Linked DNA regions of Homo sapiens. The protein of the gene in region 1 interacts with the protein of each later gene in a pairwise test. Each region holds a gene or a part of one and is shown on either strand. Other genes may lie near its edges.

Region 1 (5,456 bases):
CACATGTGTCCGGTGGCTCCGGGGTAGAAAGAACCTTGGTAAGATGAAGACTCATATGGTTTGGATCTCTGTCCCCACTCAAATCTCATGTTGAAATGTAATCCCTAATGCTGGAAGTGGGGCCTGGTGGGAGGTGGTTGCATCATGGGGGCAGTTTCTCATGGTTTAACGCCATCCCTACTTGGTGCTGTCATCGTGATAGTGAGTTTTCATGAGATCTGGTTGTTTGAAAATATGTGTTACCTCCCCCTTCTTTCTCTTCCCCCTGCTCTGGCCATGTGAAGTGCCGGCTCCCCCTTTGTCTTCTGCCACAATTGTAAGTTTCCTGAGGCCTCCCTAGAAGCCAAGCAGATGCCAGCATCATGCTTCCTGTACAGCCTGTGGAACTGTGAGCCAATTAAACCTCTTTTCTTTATAAATTACCCAGTCTCAGGTATTTCTTTATAGCAGTGCAAGAACAGACTAATACAAAGACTGTGGCAGAGAATGCAGGTGGAGTGCTGAAAAAGGAATCGGGAGGATCAGGCAGGGGCCAGATCACACGGGGCCTTGTGGAAAACACTCATCTCCTTTTCTGTGACATCTACTGTGTCTGCTTGTGATTACAGGTCCACAGATCCAACCGTCCAATCATCTGCAAGGGCTGCAGGAGAACATTCACGAGTCACCTGTCCCAGGGGCTGCGGCGCTTCGGGCTGTGTGACAGCTGCACCTGCGTTACAGACACACCCGATGATGATGATGATTTGATGCCCATCAACCTTAGCTTGGTGGAGGCTTCATCTGAAAGCCAAGAAAAGAGCGACACAGACAATGACTGGCCAATCTATGTGGAGTCGGGTGAGGAAAATGACCCTGCTGGAGATGATTCTGATGACAAACCACAAATTCAGCCTAACTTATCAGACCGAGAGACACTTACGTAGCAATAAATTGGTGGGGAAGAGGAGGTTTTAAAACTTGTTAGTGCTCGTTCTGTTGTTGAAAGATACCATTTGTCCAATTTTGTGGAACCCTGAGAGGAACATTTTTTCACTGTTATTATATGTGCATTTTTATTAGACTATCTGATAGAGGTTGGATTTTGTGACTCAAAGGACAGATAACCTTTTTGTGTGGTGCCCTTGGTTTCTGAGGGCTTTGCTGGCCACTCCTTAATTCTGAGTGAGTCAAAGCAGGCCCTGAGGTCTCCTGTTTTTCTTGCTGTGTGTCCAAACTCTGGTTAGGAGAAAGATAAGAAAATCTCCAGGCTTGTTTTTATATTGATTCAGTCCTCTGCATTCCTTTGTTATCATCCTCTTTCTCTAAAAACCATTAAGTTTTGGGATCAAGTTTACCTTTGCCAAGCCTTTCCTAATGAATTCCACATTAAATTTTCTGGCAAAGTATTAAAGAGAAACCTTCATTGATATAAAGCAGGCAGGGCGGTCTGGCTACATGATCATAAAAGGTACTCCCTAAATCTAGAACAATTTTAAAGGCTTGGAATACTTATGGGCAGACGAACATGGGAATGATCTGAAAGGCTCATTATGGCATCCTGACTTGCCCAGTTGAATTAAATTTTAAGTTAGCCCTGAGAAGGGAGGCTATGACCCCAGGTCTGGATGGTTTCCCTGTCTGGTTTGGCATTTGACGATTCTACACATACAACCTGTTCTGTTATCATAAAACAACTCATTTGGGCAAAACTCAAAATGCTCCCCTACTTTTTCCAGCAATTTCCAAAAGCTGGAGCTGTGTAACTTGGAAATGTAGCTGCCTCTGGCATTCTTTTACTTAGTTTATGCTGATGTAGGGCAGGTGAGCCCAAAAATTGGGGCTTAGCCCAGAGGAGTTCTTGGCTTCACCCAGGAAAGAATTCAAGGGCAAGCCAGTGGTGTTAGACAGCAGCTTGTATTGAAGCAGCAGTGCCCAACAGCAGCTAAGGGGCCGCTCCTCGTGGAGCAGGGCTACACCATAGGCAGTGTGCCCAGAGTAGTAGCTCAGAGGCAGGTCGGCACTTATATTTATACCCACTTTTAGTTACATGCAAATTAAGGGGCAGATTATGCAGCAATATTTAGGAAAATGGTGGTAACTTCCAAGCCGCTGGGTGGTTGCCATGATAAGGGGCAGTGACTTCCAGGTGTTGCCATGGCAATGGTAATTGACATGGCACAGTGATAAGTGTTTCTTATGGAAATCTGCTTCCTGCACCACCCTCCCACCACCGCCCTGTTTTAGCTAGTCCTCAATTTGGTCCATGTCCGAGTCCGGCCTTTGGAGTTGAGTCCTGCCTTCTACCTCCTTGCCTAGAACTTTAATTGGAGGGAAAGTATAAGCCCATAATGCCAAGTAACATTTCTAAAATGTTCATCTTTTAAAAGATCTTCATGAGGGAAAGGGAAGGTTAGTAGCAGAACAGGTTTTTAAAAGCAGTCTACCTTTCGCCCACTTTCCAGCCACACAATTATTGTAACAAAAGAGGCTGAACTCTTTAAAGGGCTAAAGGGCAGGCAGTGTTAGGAATTCGGAATGTAATTGAAGGCAATTTCCATAATTTTGTCTTATGTTAAAATATCCAAAATGGATTTTAAAAGAAATCTTCTTGTCTTCCTTTAAGTGTAGTTGTCTTTCAAAAGGTGGTAAAAGTCACTTTTATTTCTACCTCTTGAACAACAAAAAAGTCAAAAACATTATAAATTGGCTTGTAAATGTTAGCCAAAGCATTAGACAGGTGTTTAAGTCGTACTTCTCAATAGTAGTTAAAACTGGAACAGTGCAACTCAAACTCTGGCCCACAGAGAGGCCCTGTTCTGTAAACTGTTTTCTACCAGTCTGCTACAAGGAAAGTCAGAAATTAAGAATACACATATAGAAATGTTGATAACACTTTGACATTGCTGTGACTCATGGCTTTGTCTTCTTGAGTGAGGTATGGACCAGTTCAGTTCTGGTCAGCTAGAGGGCCACATGGTGCAGAGGTTGGATACCAGCCTGTACAGCAGGACCACGTATTGGTCTGCAGTAGAATGGAAAATTTAAAACTTCTCTTATCACAGGTAGTTCGATAAATATCATTCTTGGCTGTGTGCGGTGGCTCACGCCTATAATCCCAGCACTTTGGGAGGCCAAGGCAGATGGAACACTTGAGGTCAGGAGTTCGATACCAGCCTGACCAACATGGCGAAACCCCGTCTCTAGCAAAAATACAAAAATTAGTCAGGAGTGGTGGCATGTGCCTGTAATCCCAGCTACTCAGGAGGCTGTGGCGAGAGGAACACTTGAGCCTGGAAAAGGTTGCAGTGAGCTGGAATCGTGCCACTCCACTCCAGCCTGGGCAACAGTGTGAGACCTTGTCTCAAAAAAATAATAATAAAATAAATAAATAAAAGAAAAATATTCTAGATCAAGAGTTACTCATTGAAAATTATCAGGGACCAGAGATATTTGTCTTATCTGAAATAAAAATACTAGCTGTGGCCAGGCGCAGTGGCTCACGCCTGTAATCCCAACACTTTGGGAGGCCAAGGCAGGTGGATCACCTGAGGTCGGGAGTTCAAGACCAGCCTGGCCAACATGGAGAAACCCCGTCTCTACTAAAAATACAAAATTAGCCAGGCATGGTGGCGCATGCCTGTAATTCCAGCTACTCAGGAGGCTGAAGCAGGAGAATCGCTTGAACCCAGGAGGCGGAGGTTGCTGTGAGCCGACATCACACCACTGCACTCCAGCCTGGGCAACAAGAGCGAAACTGTCTCCAAAAATGTATACATATATTTGCTGTTATTTTAAAAGAGGGATCTCAGCAAAAAGGAAACCTAAATGGATGTGTAGAAGATTTACTTGGCCAGGAACAGTGTTTGATATTTTTGCTTTCTCTGTTTAAATTATCTCTGATGTTTTAATGACTTTTCTACCTCATAGTTCAGCCTCTTTGCCTGCTTTCTCCAGTGGAGCTATGATCCTCTTCAGTGATTCCGTGACCTCTTCATATCCCTGGGTAAAACATTTTACATTAGAGATTTCACTGTAGGACAGTGATTCTCAGTTGGGGGTGATTTCGTGCCTTGCAGGTGGCTACTGGCATCTAGTGGGTAGAGGCCAGGGAAGCTGCCAAACATCCTGAAATGCACAGGACAGTCCCCACAACAATGAATTCTCCAATTCAAAATGTCAGTAATACCAATGTTGAGAAACTCTGCTGTAAGATAAAGTAGGATTTTTTAAAGGATCTTTAATGAGTGGACTTAATTTTGTGTTCTATTTTAAGCTACCTTTTACCTGCATAATATTTATTTATTTTTAATTTTATTTTATGTATTTATTTATTTATTTTGAGATGGAGTTTCATCTTTGTCACCCAGGCTGGAGTGCAATGGCGTGATCTCGGCTCACTGCAACCTCCACCTCCCAGGTTCAAGAGATTCTTCTGTCTCAGCCTCTTGAGTAGTTGGGATTATAGGCACGCGCCACCACGCCTGGCCAATTTTTGTATTTTTAGTAGAAATGGGGTTTCACCATGTTGGCCAGGCTGGTCTTGAACTCCTGACCTCAAGTGATCCGCCTGCCTCAGCCTCCCAAAGTGCTGGGATTACAGGCGTGAGCCACCGTGCCTGGCTGACCTTCATAATATTTAGTAGCCCCTTATACTCTCGCAAATTTTAGAAAATAGTGGATTAGTAAAATGAAGCGCTGAGGCCAGATGGTTCATAGCTTGCCCAAGATCTGATTTAGGTTTATAATGTGGAAACTTAGAAAATTCTGACTCATTCATACACCCAGAATCGTTACTAGGTTCTGATCATTTTGTTAATTTTTAAAGTAGCAGAATCACTGGGAAGAAAACAGAATGTGACACCTAATGTTTAAATGATTCTCTTTCTTTCGTAATATCTCAGATTGTTGCATTTCTGGTGGACTATTTGGAGTTTGTGTATAGGCACTGGCAATAACTGGATCACTGAGTTCTATCACTTTTAAAGGAGATACTTCCTCTGTCTAGACTATCAGATCATAAATTGGTCCCCTTTAGGTGGTCAGTATTTATAATCACAGTGTCTTTGAGGTTTAATTTGTGGGGTTGGTGGTATTTTTATACTAAGTAAATTTACAGTTGAGCCCAACACAGACCGTTAGTGGTTTAGTTTCTATTCTGGCACATTCCACCCAAGTTCACAAAGGGATATTTTCGTCTCATATTAGATGTATTGCATGAATGGGAACAGGACTCTTACTTGTAATGGAATTCCAAAATGGCATTCTTGGGAAGTTATTTCTCTTGGGGGATGAGGACCCCCTTCTCAAAAGTTGAGAAGGAATGTAAATAGGGCCTTACCTATAATAATTAAGAAATGACATAGTGCATCATGATTCTGATCATTTGGCAGAAAGATGCCGTTCTGATGTAAATATTTTGGTGGCCACCAGACTTTGAATATTCCTTAAGGAAGCTGCTGACCTAGTGTTCTGCA
Region 2 (3,500 bases), about 59 Mb from region 1:
AAGAGAACCAGAATATGGGATCTTATTTCTGATCTCCATTTTTTTTAATATATATCTTGAATATTGCTCATGTAGTAAATATTCTACAACTGGATTTAAGGTCCATTGCATATTATATTATAATATATTCAATCACCTTTTACTATTGACCCTATAGATTGTTTCTATTTTTTCCTATTAAGAAAAATGCTGTAATGCACAAACTATCTGGCATAATATTGGTCAAATGTTTATTCTTTCACTGTTTTGGCAAGCTTTTTTTTTTTTTTTTGAGACATGGTCTCTCTGTCACACCACTGTCACTGGAGTGCAGTGGTGCAATTACAGCTCACTGCAGCCTTAACTCCTGCACTCAAGCAATCCTACCCCCTCAGCCTCCTGAGTAGCTTGGATTACAGGCATGTGCCGCTACACTCAGCTAATTTTAAATATTTTTTTTAGAAACAGGATCTTGCTATGTTGCCCAGGCTGGTCTCAAACTCCTGGCCTCAAGTGATCCCCTCCTATCTTGGCCTCCCAATGCACTGGGATTACAGGTGTGAGCCACCATGCCTGGCCAGTAAGCTTTTATTTTTTTTTAAGTATCTACTATATGCCAAGTTTTAATAAGTGAGAAAGATCTGTTCAGTGAAAGAATGATGTATAAACTCTATATTGAAAGTCTCCTCCATACTGGTGAACTCTACTGGAAGGAAGGCTTGCTTCATTCTGTTTGCTACAATGACACCCTTAGCCATGCTTCTAAAATGGGCTATGGGTACCATCTTTGTTTGCCTGGGACAGATCTAGCTTACGGCTATTGTCACAATGTAATTATTATTCCTGCTGCCTTTTCACTCAAGAGTGTCCCAGTTTGGGCTTATATTATGTATTATCCCCTAGTTCCAGGAGGTATAAACCAGAGAGTACATGAAGCCCCAGAATAACCATGACTATATGCCTAGAGTGTCAGTTTTAATCCATGACAAGATATTGAAAACGTTTCATTTATGTGATGAATATTTATTGTCTGTTATATACATGTACTTTTTTAGGTGCTAGGGATAAATCAAACCATAAAACAGAAATTAACACTGTGGTAGTTAGACAATAGACAGAGAGTAAACAAAAGAAGTAAATACTGTGCTCAAAAGTGATTAATGTTACTAAGAAAATGTAAAAGGGAAGGGGAGATAGGAAGTATTGGGGAAGGAGATTGTAATTTTAGTGAGTATGGTTGCTCATAGCCTTCTGTAACATTTGAGCTAAGACTTCAAGGTGGTGAAGGAGTGACCTGTGCAGATATTTGGGGAAGAGCATTCCAAACAGAGGAAACGGCAAGTACAAAGACCCTGAAACGGCAAGTACAAAGACCCTGAGATGGGAGTGTGCCTAGCATTCAAGAATAGCAAGGAGGTCATTGTGGCTAGAATGGGGAAGGTAATTGGAATGAAGTCAAAGAGAGATGTAAAGAGGCTTTCTAATGGAGTGAGATGTGAAACCATTAGAGGTTTTGAGCACAATAGTGACAAGGTGACTTAGCTTTATCAGAATACTCTGTTTAAACTCTGTTTGCTATGTTGCAAGCCGACTGGCTACTATGTTACAGATAGACTCCAGGCTGGCAAGGAGTGTAGTTAAGGAGACTATTGGTATATTAAAACCAACTTGGATATATTATGCAGCAGAAAACAAAAGTGACTTAAAATGTCAAAATAGAAGCCTAGACCTTCATGTATAAAATAGAGGCATTTAAATAATTTTTAGCATATTATAGATTTTCGGGATCCTCCTCCAGTCCTCAAAGTCTGTTTCATTTGTCTGTCTTTAGTACTGTTTTCCAGCTTTTGACATGAATGCACTTTTCTGCTTTCTGCTGTCATTTCCCACTTCAGAATTTGAGGATATTGCATTCACTTTGGTTGCCAGGAAGTTTTACTGTTGTTTAAAATTGTTGAAGTTGTTCTGAAGTGACAGGAAACCTTAATAAACATTTTGATTTTTGTAAAGAGGAGTAGATGCATAATAAGTGAGTAGTGGTGTGGAAGTACCCTTAATGTTTCTCCTCCCTTTCACATCTGTTCTCCACTTGTCATTTTTCTGCTTAAAAACTTCCTATAGCTTTCATGTGCATTCTCTCTTGTCTTCCTCAGCCACATTCTATTTCTATTATTGTTATTATTGTTATTATTATTGAGACAGGGTCTCCCTCTTCCATCACCCAGGCTGGAGTACAGTGGCACGATCATAGTTTAGTAACCTCAAACTCCTGGGCTCAAGGTATCCTTCTGCCTCAGTCTCTGTAGCTGAGACTACAGGCCCGTGTTACAAAGCCCAGCTAATTTTTGTTTGTTTGTTTGTTTTTTAGCTTTTTTAAGAGATAGGGTCTCAAACACCTGGCCTCAAGCAGTCTTCTTGCCTTGGTCTCCTAAAGTGCTGGGATTACAGGCCTGAGCCACCGCCCCAGGCCACATTGTATTTCATTGTCTCTCAGCCCTCCCCCTACCCTAATCATCCAAGCCTTTTTTTTTTCTTGTTCCTGTCTTTACAGACGTAGTTAATTTTTCCTAAAATGTTTTCTTCCACTTTCACTACTTGGTGAATGCTTCAGAACAAAACTTAGCTGTCAACTGAAGGCTTCCTATCACCTTCAGAAATCCTCCCCAACCTAGTAGTATATACATTCTTTTATTACAGGTGTCACCTTGTATTAAGAATGATAACATGTTTCCTTTACTAGACCAAGCTCTTAGTGGCTGCATCAAATTTATTGGTTTTTTTTACATACCCATTGCTGAGCATTTTTTAAGACAGCGTTTATTTAAATGAATTAGTTCTAGCCAGGTGCGGCGGCTCACACCTGTAATCCCAGCACTTTGGGAGGCCAAGGTGGGCAGATCACTTGAGGTCAGGAGTTCAAGACCAGCCTGGCCATTGTGGTGAAACCCCGTCTCTACTAAAAACACAAAAATTAGCTGGGCGTGGTGTTGCGTGCCTGTAATTCCAGCTGCCCATGAGGCTGAGGCATGAGAATCTCTTGAACGCAGGAGGCAGAGGTTGCAGTGAGTGGAGATTACATCACTGCACTCCAACCTGGGCAACAGAGTGAGACTCCATCTCAAAAAAGAAAGAAAATTAGAAAATATATATAATCAGCAACACCTCTGTGAAATTGGGCAAATGATTTAACCTCCCTGAATTGAGTTTCCTTATCTGAAAAATCAGGATAATCATTCCTGCTCTGCCAAGTTCACAGTACTGTTAGGAAGACCTCAAAAGATACTGCATGTGCCGGTGCTTTGAAAATGTCTTAAACTTATGCTATATAGGGCTAGTAGAGCCTAGATACTGTAATAAAATCTGAAGACTTATCTAGTTCTCTTCTGTATCCAGTAGTTTACTGGGTTTTGTATTATTGCCTCCCCTTGTTTTAACTATGTACATTTTTATAAAGAACTGATACTTATTTAAAAGTAGCAATTTATCTGCAGTCAAGGATAGAGGATACTACTGGCAATTGG

Evidence for each region.
Region 2: the proteins of ZBTB8B (region 1) and CDC7 interact in binary tests that used the Homo sapiens proteins (3 or more experiments, as listed by UniProt).

What each region holds. Positions count from the first base shown.
Region 1 is NC_000001.11:32,484,493-32,489,948, forward strand, and holds part of ZBTB8B (zinc finger and BTB domain-containing protein 8B), read left to right. Parts: intron 1-608; coding exon 609-926; 3' UTR 927-5,456. UniProt on the Homo sapiens protein: May be involved in transcriptional regulation.
Region 2 is NC_000001.11:91,503,851-91,507,350, forward strand, and holds part of CDC7 (cell division cycle 7-related protein kinase), read left to right. Parts: intron 1-3,500. UniProt on the Homo sapiens protein: Kinase involved in initiation of DNA replication. Phosphorylates critical substrates that regulate the G1/S phase transition and initiation of DNA replication, such as MCM proteins and CLASPIN.